Regions from separate parts of the Homo sapiens genome. Here regions 2 and 3 are each linked to region 1. The links come from fine-mapping of genetic effects on gene expression. A gene starts in region 1. Each other region holds a variant in brackets. All regions are shown on one strand. Distances are between the middles of the regions.

The links.
Region 2: its variant is fine-mapped to the expression of WDR27 in whole blood (INTERVAL, PIP above 0.99). The same link has a PIP of 0.9 or more in aorta.
Region 3: its variant is fine-mapped to the expression of WDR27 in atrial appendage (GTEx, PIP above 0.99).

Annotation. Positions count from the first base shown.
Region 1 is chr6:169,699,013-169,704,238 of GRCh38, forward strand. WDR27 (WD repeat domain 27) reads right to left here and starts at 3,017. Exons shown (of 26, transcript NM_182552.5): 1 at 2,539-3,017. C6orf120 (chromosome 6 open reading frame 120) reads left to right here and starts at 3,114. Exons shown (of 1, transcript NM_001029863.3): 1 at 3,114-5,226. The coding sequence starts at 3,448. The coding sequence ends at 4,023. PHF10 (PHD finger protein 10) reads right to left here. Exons shown (of 12, transcript NM_018288.4): 12 at 4,890-5,076. The coding sequence ends at 4,991. RefSeq lists enhancers at 2,571-2,650, 2,971-3,060 and a silencer at 3,111-3,480.
Region 2 is chr6:169,569,394-169,574,619 of GRCh38, forward strand. It overlaps WDR27 (WD repeat domain 27), which reads right to left. Exons shown (of 26, transcript NM_182552.5): 25 at 3,026-3,147. Among named protein-coding and RNA genes, the nearest start is that of WDR27, 130 kb to the right of the region's middle. The variant C/T (reference allele first, on the strand shown) is at 2,162.
Region 3 is chr6:169,595,110-169,600,335 of GRCh38, forward strand. All of the region lies in intron 23 of WDR27 (WD repeat domain 27), which reads right to left. Among named protein-coding and RNA genes, the nearest start is that of WDR27, 100 kb to the right of the region's middle. The variant C/CA (reference allele first, on the strand shown) is at 2,300.

The DNA.
Region 1 (5,226 bases):
GAGGGGAAAAGCTCAAGACTCACGTTAGGCAGTGACAAACAGGTTCAACTGCAACAACCTGTAATAACGCAGAAAACTTACCACAGGCTTACTCTCCTGCAGCCCTACAGGAAATTATTGCAAAGAATACGCATTAGCAGCCAACACACGGAATTGGACTAGAGAACTGGCTGGTGTGCAAGCGGAATGGACACGAAAAGAAAGTACGAAGAGCAGGGGCTGCAGCACTGGGAAACCTGAGTGCCCTGAGAGGCTGCAGGGAGGGACAAAGGACCATCAGGTCTTGGCCCTTCAGCAAAGATCTGACCTAGGATGGCTACCTTCCCACTCAAGCCTTTGTTCCACATAACCTCAGGGTATCAGCTGCCCAGGAGACCAAAAGAAAATAAAGTCAGGCTTGAACAGTAGACACAGGAAGAACGACAATGGCATCACCAGCACACAGAGCTGACGAGATACACACAGACCAGAAGCTGCTGTGCTCGTGAGGACACGATGAAGCCTAAGAAGTATCAAGCAAAGAACAGAGTAAGGGCACACGGTGGGCTCAGGGCTGACTGCCTGGTCCCCACTGCCATGCTCCAGGAGTGAGCTATGGCAGCCTTCCAAGACAGCATCCTCATAGCCACATCAGATGAGACCGTGGAGGAAAAGGACTAAGGGTAGAATCAAGGGCCTCAGCAAACAAGCCAGGCACAGTGGCTCACATCTGCAATCCCAGCACTTTGTGGGGCCGAGGCAGAAGGATCACTTGAGCCCAGGAGTTCAAGACCAGCCTGGGCAACATAGTGAGACCCTGTCTCTACTTTAAAAAAAAAAAGTAGTCAGGTGTGGCAGTGCATGCTTGTAGCCCCAGCTGCTGGGGAGGCTGAGGTGGGAGGATCGTTTGAGCCACGGAGGTTGAAGCTATAGTGAGCTGTGATTGTGCCACTCTACTTCAACCTGGACAACAGTGACATCCTGTCTCAAAGGAAAGAAAAAGAACAATGGACAAGGGAATTCCTCCCAGATAGCAGAATCAGGGTCTAGTTGGGAAATTCCTCCCACCTCCACCCCAGCATCACTTCAAAACTGCTATAGACCAGTGTCTGCCATGTGTCTCCCTTTTCCAAAAGGGAGATGGTTACAAAAACCATGGTCATATTTAACCACTGCATTTTAGTGGGGAGAGCAACTAGTTTGTCTTCTTAGTCCATAGGGCTCTGGACCACGAGGAACCACAGCCAGGCCTGATGGAGAGAACTGTGCAATCCTGAGAAATGTTCTGTGTTGCACTAGGCACCTTGACAAAGTGTCCCCCTTGGGGTGGGGAGAGTGTGTTCTCCATGTGGGATCAAGAGTGGAGCAGAGATCTGGTCACCAGAAGAGAGACTACGGTAAGTGCTGTTCCTTTTCCACTAAGCCACTTCCCTTTCCTTCTAGACACAGAACTAAACTACACTCCCTAGCTTCCCTTGCAATTAAGTGCAGCCATGTAGTCGTTGAGTGCCTGGCCCATAAATTCCTCCTGCACTGCCTCTCTTCTTTCCCCACCCACTGGCTAAATGCGGAGAATTCAGAGGGCCTAAGGAAAAAAACCACAACATGGAAGAATTTTAGGCTGCAGCTTGCAGAGAGCTGCCCAAAGGAATCGTCTGACTAGAAACCGCTACACAGGACTGTGTGAGCAAGAAACATGCAACTGTTCTATTGGGGTGAATTGCTACAGCACTTAACCTACCTCCACTAATATAAATTGTTTAACATTTTTTTGAATTACAAAAGCAATACAATACAAAACATTTAAACAATGCAGAAATAATAAAGTTTTTTATCCCTACCTCCTCTCCCTGCTGTGCCAACCCTAGGGGATAATCAATGTCACAGGATATCCCCAGGAATATCCATGTACATACATGCACAGAACAAGTCAGGGAAAATAAACTAAATTTATTATTTTAGTGAGATTCTAGTGCACCTAACACTAGGTAAGCACTTCAGGAAAAGGCAGTGACAAGTGATTGCTAAAGATACCATAGTCTTAAAGTTAAGTCAGTAAACACAAGATAGTAATCCCAGATAAACTGGAAGCTGTAGAGTTAATACTCCTTTACTGGTACAGAGCAGTGTGTGTAAATTGTAGAAAATTTAGAAATACATAAAAAGATGAAAACTCTACTACTCGAGGAGTACCACTGATAAAATCCTGTGCATTTCCGTTTTTTTAATGTACATACGAATATTTTTAAAAAGAGAAAATTACTCCCTTCTGATTAGAAAAGATCGAAATTTTTCTCTTTTAGTGATAATCAAGTCAGAAACTTGCTGTTTGGCTCGAGTTAGGAAAACCTAGCCTGGTAGTTACCACGCAGGTTGAAAGGCCAGTGGGGCATAATTAACGAGCCCTCAGGGTCCACGCTCCCGCCCTCGGAGCTCAGAACCGACGGGAGGTGCAGGAGGCCGGGCATTTCTACAGCCCTGGTTCGTTCCTAAACTACTGAATCTTTTAAAGAGATCTGAGTGCTCCTTATACACAGCTGCTTTAATTAAAATAACCACCTGAGCCCTTTTCCTCCGAACTCCACATGCGCTCAGTTCTCAAAGCGCCGATCTCAAGCGGCCGCCCGGATGCTCCGGCCCGACTTGTGCCCCGAATTCCCCTGGAGACCCTCGCACTAGCACGGCGTCAGGAGGAGGCTTCGGGTGACGAGACAGCGGGCAACGGCTCTGGTCCAGAGCGCGCGTGTCCGCCGTTGGAAGCGGTCACGGCGGAACCCTCAAATCGCCCCCTTTCCTAGAGACCTCAGCGGAGCCGCGAGCAACCGCGCAGCCCCCGCGCTCCAGCCCTGCGCCCTAGGCACACGCCCCAGAGCAGCAGCTCGGGTTCGGCGCCGACTCCGCGCCGAGACCAGCCCGCTAGGGGAGGACTCACAGCACCCAGCTCCCAGGAGGGCACGCAGAGGACTACCGAGCCACACTCCGCCCCACGCTCGCCGCTATGGTTACTTGCCAGCCGACCCACGCGAGCCGCTATGGTTACTAGCCCGCCGCCCCTCGCGCCCACGCCCCTTTCGCTATCTCGCGACAGCTGGAGAAGCCTCGCTTCCGGCCGGCTCACTTACGGACCTAGCGTCACTTCCGCCTCCGGCGAGGCTCCGGCCTCGGGTCCGGATGTATAAAGCGCGGCCCCCTGCGGGGAGTGGTGGTGAGTCCGAGGGTGCCACAGCGGCCCTGCCCCTGCCCCTGCCCCTGCCCTGAGTGGGCGCCGCGCTACGGGGGAGGGGTTAACCCACCCCTCCTCCCCGGGGCCTCACGCGGGTGGGAAGGGACAGTCCCAGCGACAGACCAGGCGCCTGGACGCGCCGTGGACCCGCGTGCGGACGGCGGGGACAGGCTCCGGTGCTGAGCGCCTCCGGTGTCCCCAGCAGCACTGACCCACTTGCAGGCCCCGGAGCTGAGCCGCCAGCCATGGCCGCTCCCCGCGGGAGGGCCGCGCCCTGGACGACGGCCCTGCTGCTGCTCCTAGCCTCGCAGGTCCTGTCTCCGGGAAGCTGCGCGGACGAGGAGGAGGTCCCCGAGGAGTGGGTGCTCCTGCACGTCGTCCAGGGCCAGATAGGCGCCGGGAACTACAGCTACCTGCGGCTGAACCACGAGGGCAAGATAGTCCTCAGGATGCGCAGCCTCAAGGGAGATGCGGATCTGTACGTCTCCGCCAGCAGCCTGCACCCCAGCTTCGACGACTACGAGCTGCAATCGGCCACCTGCGGCCCGGACGCCGTGTCCATCCCCGCGCACTTCCGGCGCCCAGTGGGCATCGGCGTCTATGGACACCCCTCCCACCTGGAGAGCGAGTTCGAGATGAAGGTGTACTACGACGGCACGGTCGAGCAGCACCCGTTCGGCGAGGCCGCCTACCCCGCCGACGGCGCAGATGCCGGCCAGAAGCACGCTGGTGCCCCGGAAGACGCCTCGCAAGAGGAGGAATCTGTTCTCTGGACGATATTAATTAGCATTTTGAAACTGGTACTTGAAATTCTCTTTTGAGTCGTTGACCACACTCTGGGATATAAAACCCTCCATCTGTGAAGCTGATTGCAGTTTGCTGTGAACCTTGCTACTTGTACTTGGTTGAAGTTCTAGGTACCTTTAGTCAAGGGATGGAAAAATAAAGCCATACGCAGTTTTGTTACCTCAGTTACCCCAAAAATAGGAAAAGCAGCAAGCACAGTATTTTAAAGATCATAATTCCTATAAAAGGACTGTGCACAAAGTGTTTAGACTCCATTTTCATTAGGCAGGTTGACTAAAAATGATTGCAGTAACAGGTTTATATAAAATAGAGCAACCTTTCATGCTGTGACACAAATCAAAAGGTTGATAACTTTGTAATTTTACTCTGGAGATTCTAACCGAAGTTGGTGTAAGTTTTCAAGAGTTACTAAAATCAAGTTGGAAATGATTTACGTACACTTCCCTGAGCCTGGACTAAAGCCTCATGCCTGTACCCCAAGTAGGTGATGGTACTTTTCTATACAAAAAGGATTTCCTGGCAGGCAGGTATTTACAAAGTTTGTTCCTGTACCAGTCCAATAATGACAACTCTAAATCCAGCTGCACCAAATCTTAGTGGGCCATTTGTCATACCTATGAAAATTCTTCAGTTATTAAATAACTTTGTCAGTGCTACCTATGGTAGGCCGGAAACAATGTAGATTAGGAAGTTTCATGAAAATTAACTTTTGGGGCTATGGAGAAACAGTTAAGTATCTTAAGTTACTAAACATTTCCACTGAATTTTTGGAGTGAGCCAAGGTTACTATAAAATACTTTGGAAGATGAATTCTCTACCTGGAGTTAGTTTCGAGAGTAAGCGTAGCTTTTAACAGAAATAACTGCAGATTTTAAGCTCATAATTTGCAAAAAAAATCTTTTATTGGCATGAAAATAATGTTGTAAATGGCACCAAATATTCCACTTAAATGCATATACAGTATTAGAGTCAAAAACTATTTTATCCCTCTTTGCTGTTTTTCCCCCTTCTGCCCACTTTCCTGGGTGTTGGGGGGGCCCGCTGACAACAGTCACAAATCCAGCGACCTAGGAAAAAAATTGTTAATATAGAATGAAAAATTATCTTTACAGGACTGAATTTTAAGCCCATCTAAACTCTTCTGCCTTAGCTATCACTAATGATATTCCTCTCTGGATTTTGTGGTGAGAAGGGCACTATGAGTTCCTTAATTTAAG
Region 2 (5,226 bases), 130 kb before region 1:
CCTCAGGCAATGAGTTAAAGTTACAACTTTGTTAAAGTATTTTAAAATTGTTAAGCTTCATTTTAAATGTACTATATAAGATTTTCTTGAATACTTAAATGACAAAAATAAAATGTAAGATGGTCCTGAGTTCTTAATCAATTATTAAAAATCTAACAAAGCAAACATAAATATGGTGAATTTTAAGTTCTCTTAAAAATTTAAATACTTATAAACTTAGTAATATTTTCCTTTTTTTCTCAACTAAGAAGTCACAAGTCCAAGGTCAATACAGATGTCAAATTAGAATCAGATCTTTTAAAATATCAACATCCTTAAAGCATTGCAAATGCCTTAAATATTAATTATTCCAGGTTATTCCTAAATTCATGCAAGTCTATTAATGCTGTGGCTTTGGTGTATTTTGCCATCTCTACATTTAATTCTAGCCACTAAAATCTTTTCCAGTCTGAAGTGACTTGGGGTTACCATTCTAGGGCAGCTAGAATTGTTTAACGACCAAAGATTTCACCCTCTCACAAAACCCAGAGCCATCTACACTCAGAATGAGTCTTCCTGCCCAACTATCTCCTGTTGGTTGGGTTTTACTGGACTTAGCCCTCTTGAGGGCAGGAGTGTCTTCCATGCTGCTAGGAAGAACCCTGATGCCATCACATTGGGCACCACGGAATGCCATTACCTCCTCATCTACCTTCATGGTCTGCGGGGTCATAGTGTATCCACGTGGACTCGGCAGATCTCTTGCGCTTGATGCTGGTCCCACCACAACACTCATGGCCACAAGGAAACCACAGGTGCTCTTCATGGAGCATGGGGTTGGGGGGTGGTTTAGTCAACGAGAAAGACCTGGGTAGCTGACAACTTAACTTTCAACAAGGACAAACACAAGGACTAAAACAGAAATGAAAAACAAATTTCAACACAGATGAAAATGCTAGACCAGGTGGGACCCAGAGGGAAGACAGGAGAGAAAAAGAACCTTCTCCAACCACTGTGAAGTGTGAGGGGCTATCTTCAGGAGGACACGAGACCAGCAGTGTGTACGTGATGCTTCACTCCCAGGAATACTTGCAGTAAATCATGCAATTCTCTTTACGGACATAGGTTTACTCATTCTCAGCAGTCCTTTCTGTTATCTTTAAAAAGCTCAACTGGCCAGGTGCAGTGGCTCACGCCTGTAATCCCAACACTTTGGGAGGCCTAGGCGGGCGGATCACCTGAGGTCAGGAGTTGGAGACTATCCTGGCCAACATAGTGAAACCTCGTCTCTACTAAAAATACAAAAATTAGCCAGGCGTGGTGGCGGGCACCTGTAATCCCAACTACTCGGGAGGCTGCGGCAGGAGAATTGCTTAAACCTGGGAGGCGGAGGTCACAGTGAGCTGCGATTGTGCCATTGCACTCCAGCCTGGGCCACAAGAGCGAAATTCCGTTTCAAAAAAAAAGAAAAAAGCTCTATTTAGGAAATCTCTCCTCATAAGACAGGACGCAGGCCAGGAGTCTCCCGTGGCGGCCAGGAAGGAGGGGACAGCAGGAGCTGCACCTCAGCCTTGCCCTCTCGGCCAGGCCCACTCCCTGCCCGGTATTCTCTGTATACAAGCATCACCACAGAGCAGACTGTTTCAATTATGAGTTCTTAGAAAGAAATAGTGCAATCTTGCTCCTGAATTTATAAATTAGCGGATACAGTGATCACAAATATCACAGGTTTTTATCCCATGTAAAAACCAAGGAATGTAACCTTTCCTCCAGGTATATGCTTATGTCATTTTTCCCTGGCAAAGCTAAACCACAACTCTCAAAGTAATACAGCCTAAATAAAACAGATTTAAATTTCACACCCACATACCTTAGTCAGAAAAAAATTAAAAAAAAAATAAATAAAAAGATGACTCAATGAAGAATACTGGAGATTTAAAGTTTCCCAGAAGTTAACAATGCTGTCTTTGCATTTCTATTTGTACAATGACTCACACAGATTACTTCTGATAACCCCACTCTCATCAAAGTCTTAATAAAGTGAACGACATGCAGCTGAATTCCCAACTTTTCGGACTCAAACCAGCAATTAGCAGGAAAAGAGCCATGCTATCCTGGCATAAACATTTACGTTCCACATTCAACACCCAGCAACCACTCAAAAACTGCATTGGGCCACGTG[C/T]GGCAGCTCGCACCTGCAATCCCAGCACTTTGGGAAGCCGAGGCAGGAGGATCGCTTGAGCCCAGGAGTTCAAGGCCAGCCTAGGCAAACTGGTGAGACTCCATCTTAATACAAACAATAAATAAATAAATAATTAGTCGGGGGTGGTGGCTTGAGACTGCCAGTCCGAGCAACTCAGGAAGCTGAGGTGGGAGCATCACTGGAGCCAGGGGGTTTGAGGCTGTAGTCAGCCGTGATCACACCACTGGACTCCAGCCTGGGTGACAGAGCAAGACCCTGTCTAAAACAAACAAACAAAAAACTACAACACACACCAAAGAGCAGGGGAGGTTTGGAGGGAGATCAACTGTCTCTCGACAGAGCAATTAACAGAACTATATTCAGAAATAACCCAGATATTGGCACTGTCAGTCAGGAATTAAAAATTATTATAATATGTTAAAAGTTCTGTAATTTCAGCAGAGACACAGATCTCTGGAGGAAAAATTTTCTAGGCCTAAGGTAATCAGAATAAATCAAACTGGAAAAAGAAAACAAAACACAAAAAGCCAAACCAAATCTAGAGGAAACATATAGTGTAAATACAAAGATGAAAATTTTAGTTTTAAATTAAAAGCTACAGCAATCATTAGGTAAAACATTGAGTCTGAAGTATAAAGAGATGAAGGATATAAACATGCAATTTAAAAATTAAAAGAATTCTGGGCCGGGCGTGGTGGCTCACGCCGGTAATCCCAGCATTTTGGGAGGCCGAGGTGGGCAGATCACGAGATCAAGAGATCGAGACCATCCCATCCTGGCCAACATGGTGAAACCCCGTCTCTACTAAAAATACAAAAATTAGCTGGGTGTGGTGGTGGGTACCTGTAATCCCAGCTACTCGGGAGGCTGAGGCAGAAGAATTGCTTGAACCTGGAAGGCGGAGGTTGCAGTGAACCGAGATCGTGCCACTGCACTCCAGCGTGGGCGACAGAGCGAGACTCCATCTCAAAAAAAAAAAAAAAAAAAAAAAAAATTAGAAGAATTCCAATACCTAGTAGCCTGTGGGACAATGTGCAATCTCATTAGTATTCAAAGAGCAGTAAATTAAAATCGGGAGTTACTGTTTCTTGATAATTAACAAACGTAATGCAAGTGTGAACAACCAAAGCTGGTGAGGAAGCAAACAAGAGGAAACACTTTGAGAAGCATTTGTCTATAGCAGAACCCTTTAAAAGTTTATTTTTCTCAGTAATACTACTTGTTGAGAAAGTAATCTATCTTGAGAAAATAAACCCAGATACAAAAAACATTTTATGCCCAAAGACATACATCAAAACACTACTTATAGTACCAAAATATTGAAAACCATGTCAATGTCCACTCTACATGATATAACTACTTATAGATAAATCAGTTTGCAAATGTCTGTTTCTGCCTTTCCTGCATGTGTCAATGCGCCGCATACCAGCCCCCAAAACAGAGCCGTCCCCACGCCACCCTGCAGACCTTCCCTCCGCACTCCTGCTTTCTTCCCTTCCCAGGAGGTTGTGTTGCAGCCCGAGCCTCCCGGGGTGCACCTGGGCTCTGCACGCAGACCTCCGCCTTCGTCTGTGTCTTGTCTTTCACTGAAACTCTCCGAGAACCCCCCAAGTTTCTACATTGTGTTCTAGGGTAACAGTACTGACATGGTTTAGATGTAACTCAGTATAGCTGGAAAGACCAAAGCAAGTCTTATGATAAATCCTGCACAACTGAGAAATGCAAAATTGAAAATAAAGCCCAACTACCCAATACAATATGAAAAGTTTTTATATCATCTTACATTAATCCTCTTTTATTTCATTACAGTTGACCCCTGAACAAGGGTTTGAACTGTGCAAGTCCACTTATAGATGGATTATTTTTCAACCAAACTCGGATCAAAAATACAGCCCCCCAGGATGTGAAACCCAGGCAAATGGAGGGCAGACTATGTGGGTTCTGTAGGACTTGAGTGTGTGAGGATTTGGGAGCACACGGGGGACCTGGAACCAATCCCCCATGTAGACCGAGGGATGACTGTAACTATTTTACAACTGACAATAGAAAATTGATGATTGCGATAGTAATATAAAATCAATTTGATAATATAAGGTAATGTGATATTTGTGACTCTGCTATCCATTCCAATAAATTATATCTCTGTGTATCCGCGTGTGAAGCAGCTTTCTCCATACTTAACCTGCACGCTTCCTGTTCTTCCTGAACTCCCTGTGTGAACAGTAGGCTCCCTCTGCAGCCCACACTTTCACACTCAGGGACCCATCAGTTACATCACAGCTTTCTTTCGTCTTTTGCATCTGTGGTTTGAGATACTTCTGCCTTGCTAGTTTTTTGCTGGAAATAAGTCTTGCTTGGCTACCATCTCAGCCAGGATAATTTAACTATGGAGCTTCTTGAATTTGTGTTCCCATCCTAAGCAGTTAAACAGCTACACTGATATCTTATGGCAAATATACCACTGTCCTCAGATGTCCAACAAACTGAAGCTGACAACGCATCCCTAAGTCACATCTGACAGGGCGCATGTGGCGCGCAGCTGCAGTTCCTGGCAGGACACCCAGGTGTGCTTCAGAGTCTTGGATTCCGAAGCCACTCTGCAGAGCCTGTGGTCCCTTGTGAGCTGTTACAGTTCCTTACTCATTTTGAGGGTCCTCTTAGCCACAGGCATTGTTAGAATAATTTTGTAAGTACAAGTATAATCCTCTTCTTCCCAAAGACTCACAAGTCTTATTTTGACAACTGAGCAGTAACAGTGATGAAAAACATTACTTTTTTTTAAGCGTATCTAGAAATTTACTCTGAGAGGCTCAAAACTTTAGTTTTGGAAAGGGGATAATCGTTCTCACAATTAAAATGTATTAAAACAAAACAAAAACAAGTCATGGAATCTGTCTCCCGCTTTTCAAAAGTGATGTGAGTTCCCTGAAACAAGATCGGTGAGTGCCACATCCGCCCCAGGTGACACACTCGAAAGCAGGGTTCCCAGAACGTGCCAGCCTCGGTCCCAGCGAGAGGTGGGAAGCTCATCCTGCAGTGCCAGA
Region 3 (5,226 bases), 100 kb before region 1:
AAGCCATGATCGTGCCACTGCACTTCAGCCTGGGCTAACAGAGCAAGACTCAAAAATAAACAAAAACAACAACCACAAAGACATCAATATGACTGACATTTTCATCTCAGTTTCATCATAGTATTTTATTTTTAATTCTATTTAATGTATGGCAGTTTACGGTTTATTTTATTTGTCCTATCTAGATAGTTCTTTGGGCACTTAAAAATGGTAGAATTCTTCTTCCAGCAGTTATCTTTTATTAAAAGCTTTATGCAAAACTCTTGGTCCACTCCTCTCTAAGACAATGCATGTTAGTTCCCTACTATGCCCAATAGTGAGGTTGTCTAGCAACCATTTTTCCATCTCTCTTCCTCTACATCCAATTTTAATCATAATTATCTTAATATTTATACTCTTAATTACATTTAAGAGTTTACAATTCTATTGTCAGCTTCAACTGATCTCTTCTTATTCAATTAACATCTACAAGGAGAATCAAGAGAGGTATTCTACTTTCTAGTTATATTCTCACATCTCCCAGTTTTGTACTATTAAACTATAACAGATAGAATATTTACAAAGTATTCTGGTACCTTCATTCCCATTTTTTATCTTACATAGTTAAACATATTCAGTGCTCACCTTGAGGCTTTTGCTGAAACTTCTTCAATCTTACCTTGGTTTTATACAGCTTTATTTTTTTTTTTTTCAATATAACTCAAGGGAACACCATTCAGTTCTGGCATATTCATAACTGTGTGTCTGGTTTTATACTCAAAAAAAAATTTAGCTGGATATTAAAATTCTTGACTCAGATTCTCTTTTTGAGTAAGTAAAATACATTCTTCCCAATGTTTTTTTAACAAAAAAAGATGATTTACAAAAATCCAATCCAAGCTGATACTCTTTCCCTTATAAGCATTTGAACATTTTACATGGATCCACAAAGGTGTTTTTTTGTTAATGTTTATAGTCAAATAGATTTGTTAAGCTATATTTCTGTGCAAACTAGTCTGAGTCAATTTTCCCAGGTATTCGTTCAATATCTAGATTTAACTAAATTTTTTTAATTTTAGAAAATATATTTTTGAACTATCATAGTATTTGTTCTGTTTAATTGACTTTTTAAAAAAATGTCCAGGGACTCCTTTTACATGTAGGTTGAATCTCTTTTACCGAACTTCTATATTTACCTTTCATCTTGAATGTCTTTTATCATTTTCTTTATTTACTTCTCTCATTTGTATCCTTTTTCCCTATTGTGCTCTCTGTATTTGCTTTCTATTATATTCCTTTGTATTTGGTCTTTATTTCTGAATTTTTTTCTAATGCTTTCCTAATTTTCATCAGTTCTCATTTCATATATTCCTGTTGTCTAGCAATTTCTGATGTTTTATGTGTTTTCTTAACTTTCTTAAGCTAATTTGCAAATATATCATTAGTTTTCACCTGTTTAGCAGACACATTTTTATGGTGTACTCTTGTTGTCTGTGAGAATATTTTTTGGTTCATCCTTATTTTTTTTTGTATTATTAAAAAAAACTGTGATATCTAGAAGTTGTATGACACAGAAATCAGGAGATATAGAAAAAAATAGAGAGAGAAGATAGGTAATTTGGAGGCATGTTGTGAAAGTCCTTTTAAGACACACATAAGATCTTGGTTCTACATAGAGAGCTTGCAGAATATTTTAAACACATAGTATTTACAAAGAAAAGTGTAATCATATTTACATTAAAAAGTGTCATGATCATCAATAATCTGTTTTCTAGTCATTTCTAGTCATTAAGAGAAGTTTGTTAAAGTCTTCCATTATGATTGAAGATACTTCTTTTTCTTCTTAGAGTTATATCATTTTTGATTTATATATTTTGAAACTACGTTATTGGGTGCATACAGGTTTATGACATTTTCTACATAAATTGGCATCTTTGTCATATTAAATGTTGTTCATTATTTTTAGTAATGCATTAAGACCCAAAGTCTACTTTACACTAAAGTATTATCATATCAGCTTCATTTCCCATCCTGCTACTTTCAACACTTCTGTCTCTACACTCTTAATTTCCAATGATATATCTTTCAGTTCTAGGAAAGTCCAACAATGCAGTAAAATTCTCCATCCTTATATCTGTGGTCTCTGACTTGTACTCTATTTCCCTGAATATATTAATCATGGTTATTTTTAAAACCTTGTCTGCTAAGTCCAATACCTGGGTCACCCATAGTATTGTTTCTATTATGTTTTTTTTTCTTGATTTTTTGCCTCTTGACATACTTGTAATTTTTGACTGAAAGCTAAATGCTATGTATATTA[C/CA]AAAAAAAACTCCCAAGGCTCAAAATTACATTATTGTACTCCAGAAAGGTGGGCAGATGAAGCAAGAAAAGACTTCCTTACTATAAACAGAGTTGAGCAGACTCAAGGCTGGATTGCAGCTTGGGTGAGATTCCATCAACTCCTGGTTTATCCAGGGGTAAGCTAAGGTGTCCATTGGGAATTCCCACCCTACTAGCAGGTACTGACCTCTAATATTCATAGCCTCAGCCCTGAAATATTGTTAAAAACCCTACTCTGCTTCTAAAGGTCTTCTGCTGAGCCTACCTGTTTCTTGCCCTCCTTAGCTCCAGAATTGAATAAAATATGTTGACAGGAATACTGGTAGTGTCAGGCATGGCACTTGACCCTCCATGGCCCTAAAGTTTTCAAGTTTTTATCTCTACATCCCTGCAATATCAAAAAAAAGTTCTGCCAATTTTTATGCACAACTTCACCTCTTACCATTCATACACACACACACACACACACACACACACACACACACACACAGATGCATCCCTCTGTATGGCCTTTGCCTGAAACATAGGTCTCTTTTTTTTTTTGTTTAGAAATGGCAAACTCCTTCAGAGAAAAAGTACCTACAGAATGTGAGCTGCCCCTTTGCATCTCATAACCTAGTTAAACCAGGGTTTGTGTAGTAGTTCTGATAGGCACCCTAGTTAGTTTCACGCTATTCCATCATAGCTAGTGCTGAACCTGAATATGAAGAATGTGATCTTATTTGGAAAAAGGATTTTCTGCAGAAGAAATTAACTGAAGGGTATTGAGATCAGCTTGGATTTAGGGTGGGCTGTAAATCCATTATCAGTGTTGTCTTAGTCTGTTTTGTGATGCTATAACACAATACCTGAAACTGCGTAATATACAAAGAATGGAAATGTATATTCTTACAGTCCTGGAGGCTGGAAAGCCCAAGGTCAAAGAGCCAGAATCTGGCAAGGCTTCCCTTCTGCATAATCACACAGCACAAGGTGAAAGGGCCTAGAGGCAAGAGAGGGACAAACTCACCCTTTGTAAGGACCCCACTCCCATGGTAATGGCATTAATCCTTGCAGGAGGGCCAGCTCTCATGGCCTAATCCACCTCTTAAAGTTCCCACCTCTGAATACTGCTAGAATGGCAAGTAAATTTCAACATGAGTTCTGGAGGAGACATTCAAACCTAGCTAGTGTCCCCAAGAGAAAGAACGGGGAAACGAGAGATGTGCAGAGGAGGAAAGGCCACTTGGAGATGGACGCAGAGGCCAGCATGACGCAGCCACACACCAAGGAACCCCAGGGACTGTAGCAGCCACAGAGGCCAGGGAAGCGTGAGGGGTTCCTCCCTTGGACCCTGCAGAAGGGGCCAGCCCTGCTGATGCTTTCATCTCAGACTTCTGGCCTCCAGAGCCGACAGAAAATAAGTGTCTATTTTTTTAACCCTTTTCCTGTTTAGAATTTAAAAATGCAGGTTACTGCCAGCGCTCATTTAACTTTACATAAACGTGCTATTTGAGGCTGAAGCAAATTTGAATGATTTTCAACGTGAAAATAAAATATAAAAACTGTTCTTGAAGTTATTTCTTTTTTTTTATTATACTTTAAGTTTTAGGGTACATGTGCACAACGTGCAGGTTTGTTACATATGTATACATGTGCCATGTTGGTGTGCTGCACCCATTAACTCGTCATTTAACATTAGGTATATCTCCTAATGCTATCCCTCCCCCCTCCCCCCACACCACAACAGGCCCTGGTGTGTGATGTTCCCCTTCCTGTGTCCATGTGTTCTCAAAAACAATAAAGCTTTTCAAAAGAGCACAGAGGACAATACCATCATGATTTGGAAGTGAACAAAGATTATTTAAACAGGACAGGAGAAGCACTAGACAAAAAGAAGAGATTGGTATTTGACATAGAGCTATTCAGTAACATCTATAATTTAGCTGAATTGTTCACATTAGTTATGGTTTATTTATTTATGGACTTTTTTTGGTTGGTAAGCTATTAATTATTGCCTCAATTTCAGAGCCTGTTATTGGTCTATTCAGAGATTCAACTTCTTCCTGGTTTAGTCTTGGGAGAGTGTACGTGTCGAGGAATTTATCCATTTCTTCTAGATTTTCTAGTTTATTTGCGTAGAGGTGTTTATAGTATTCTCTGATGGTAGTTTGTATTTCTGTGGGATTGGTGGTGATATCCCCTTTATTGTTTTTTATTGCATCTATTTGATTCTTCTCTCTTTTCTTCTTTATTAGTCCTGCTAGCGGTCTATCAATTTTGTTGATCTTTTCAAAAAACCGGCTCCTGGATTCACTGATTTTTTGAAGGGTTTTTTGTGTCTCTATTTCCTTCAGTTCTGCTCTGATCTTAGTTATTTCTTGCCCTCTGTTAGCTTTTGAATGTGTTTGCTCTTGCTTCTCTAGTTCTTTTAATTGTGATGTTAGGGTGTCAATTTTTAGATCTTTCCTGCTTTCTCTTGTGGGCATTTAGTGCTATAAATTTCCCTCTACACACTGCTTTGAATGTGTCCCAGAGATTCTGGTATGTTGTGTCTTTGTTCTCGTTGGTTTCAAAGAACATCTTTATTTCTGCCTTCATTTCGTTATGTACCCAGTAGTCATTCCGGAGCAGGTTGTTCAGTTTCCATGTAGTTGAGCGGTTTTGAGTGCGTTTCTTAATCCTGAGTTCCAGTTTGTTCGCACTGTGGTCTGAGAGACAGTTTGTTATAATTTCTGCTCTTTTACATTTGCTGAGGAGTGCTTTACTTCCAACTATGTGGTCAATTTTGGAATAGGCATGGTGTGGACCTCCAGCAAACTCCAACAGACCTGCAGCTGAGGGTCCTGACTGTTAGAAGGAAAACTAACAAACAGATATGACATCCACACCAAAACCCCATCTATACATCACCATCATCAAAGACCA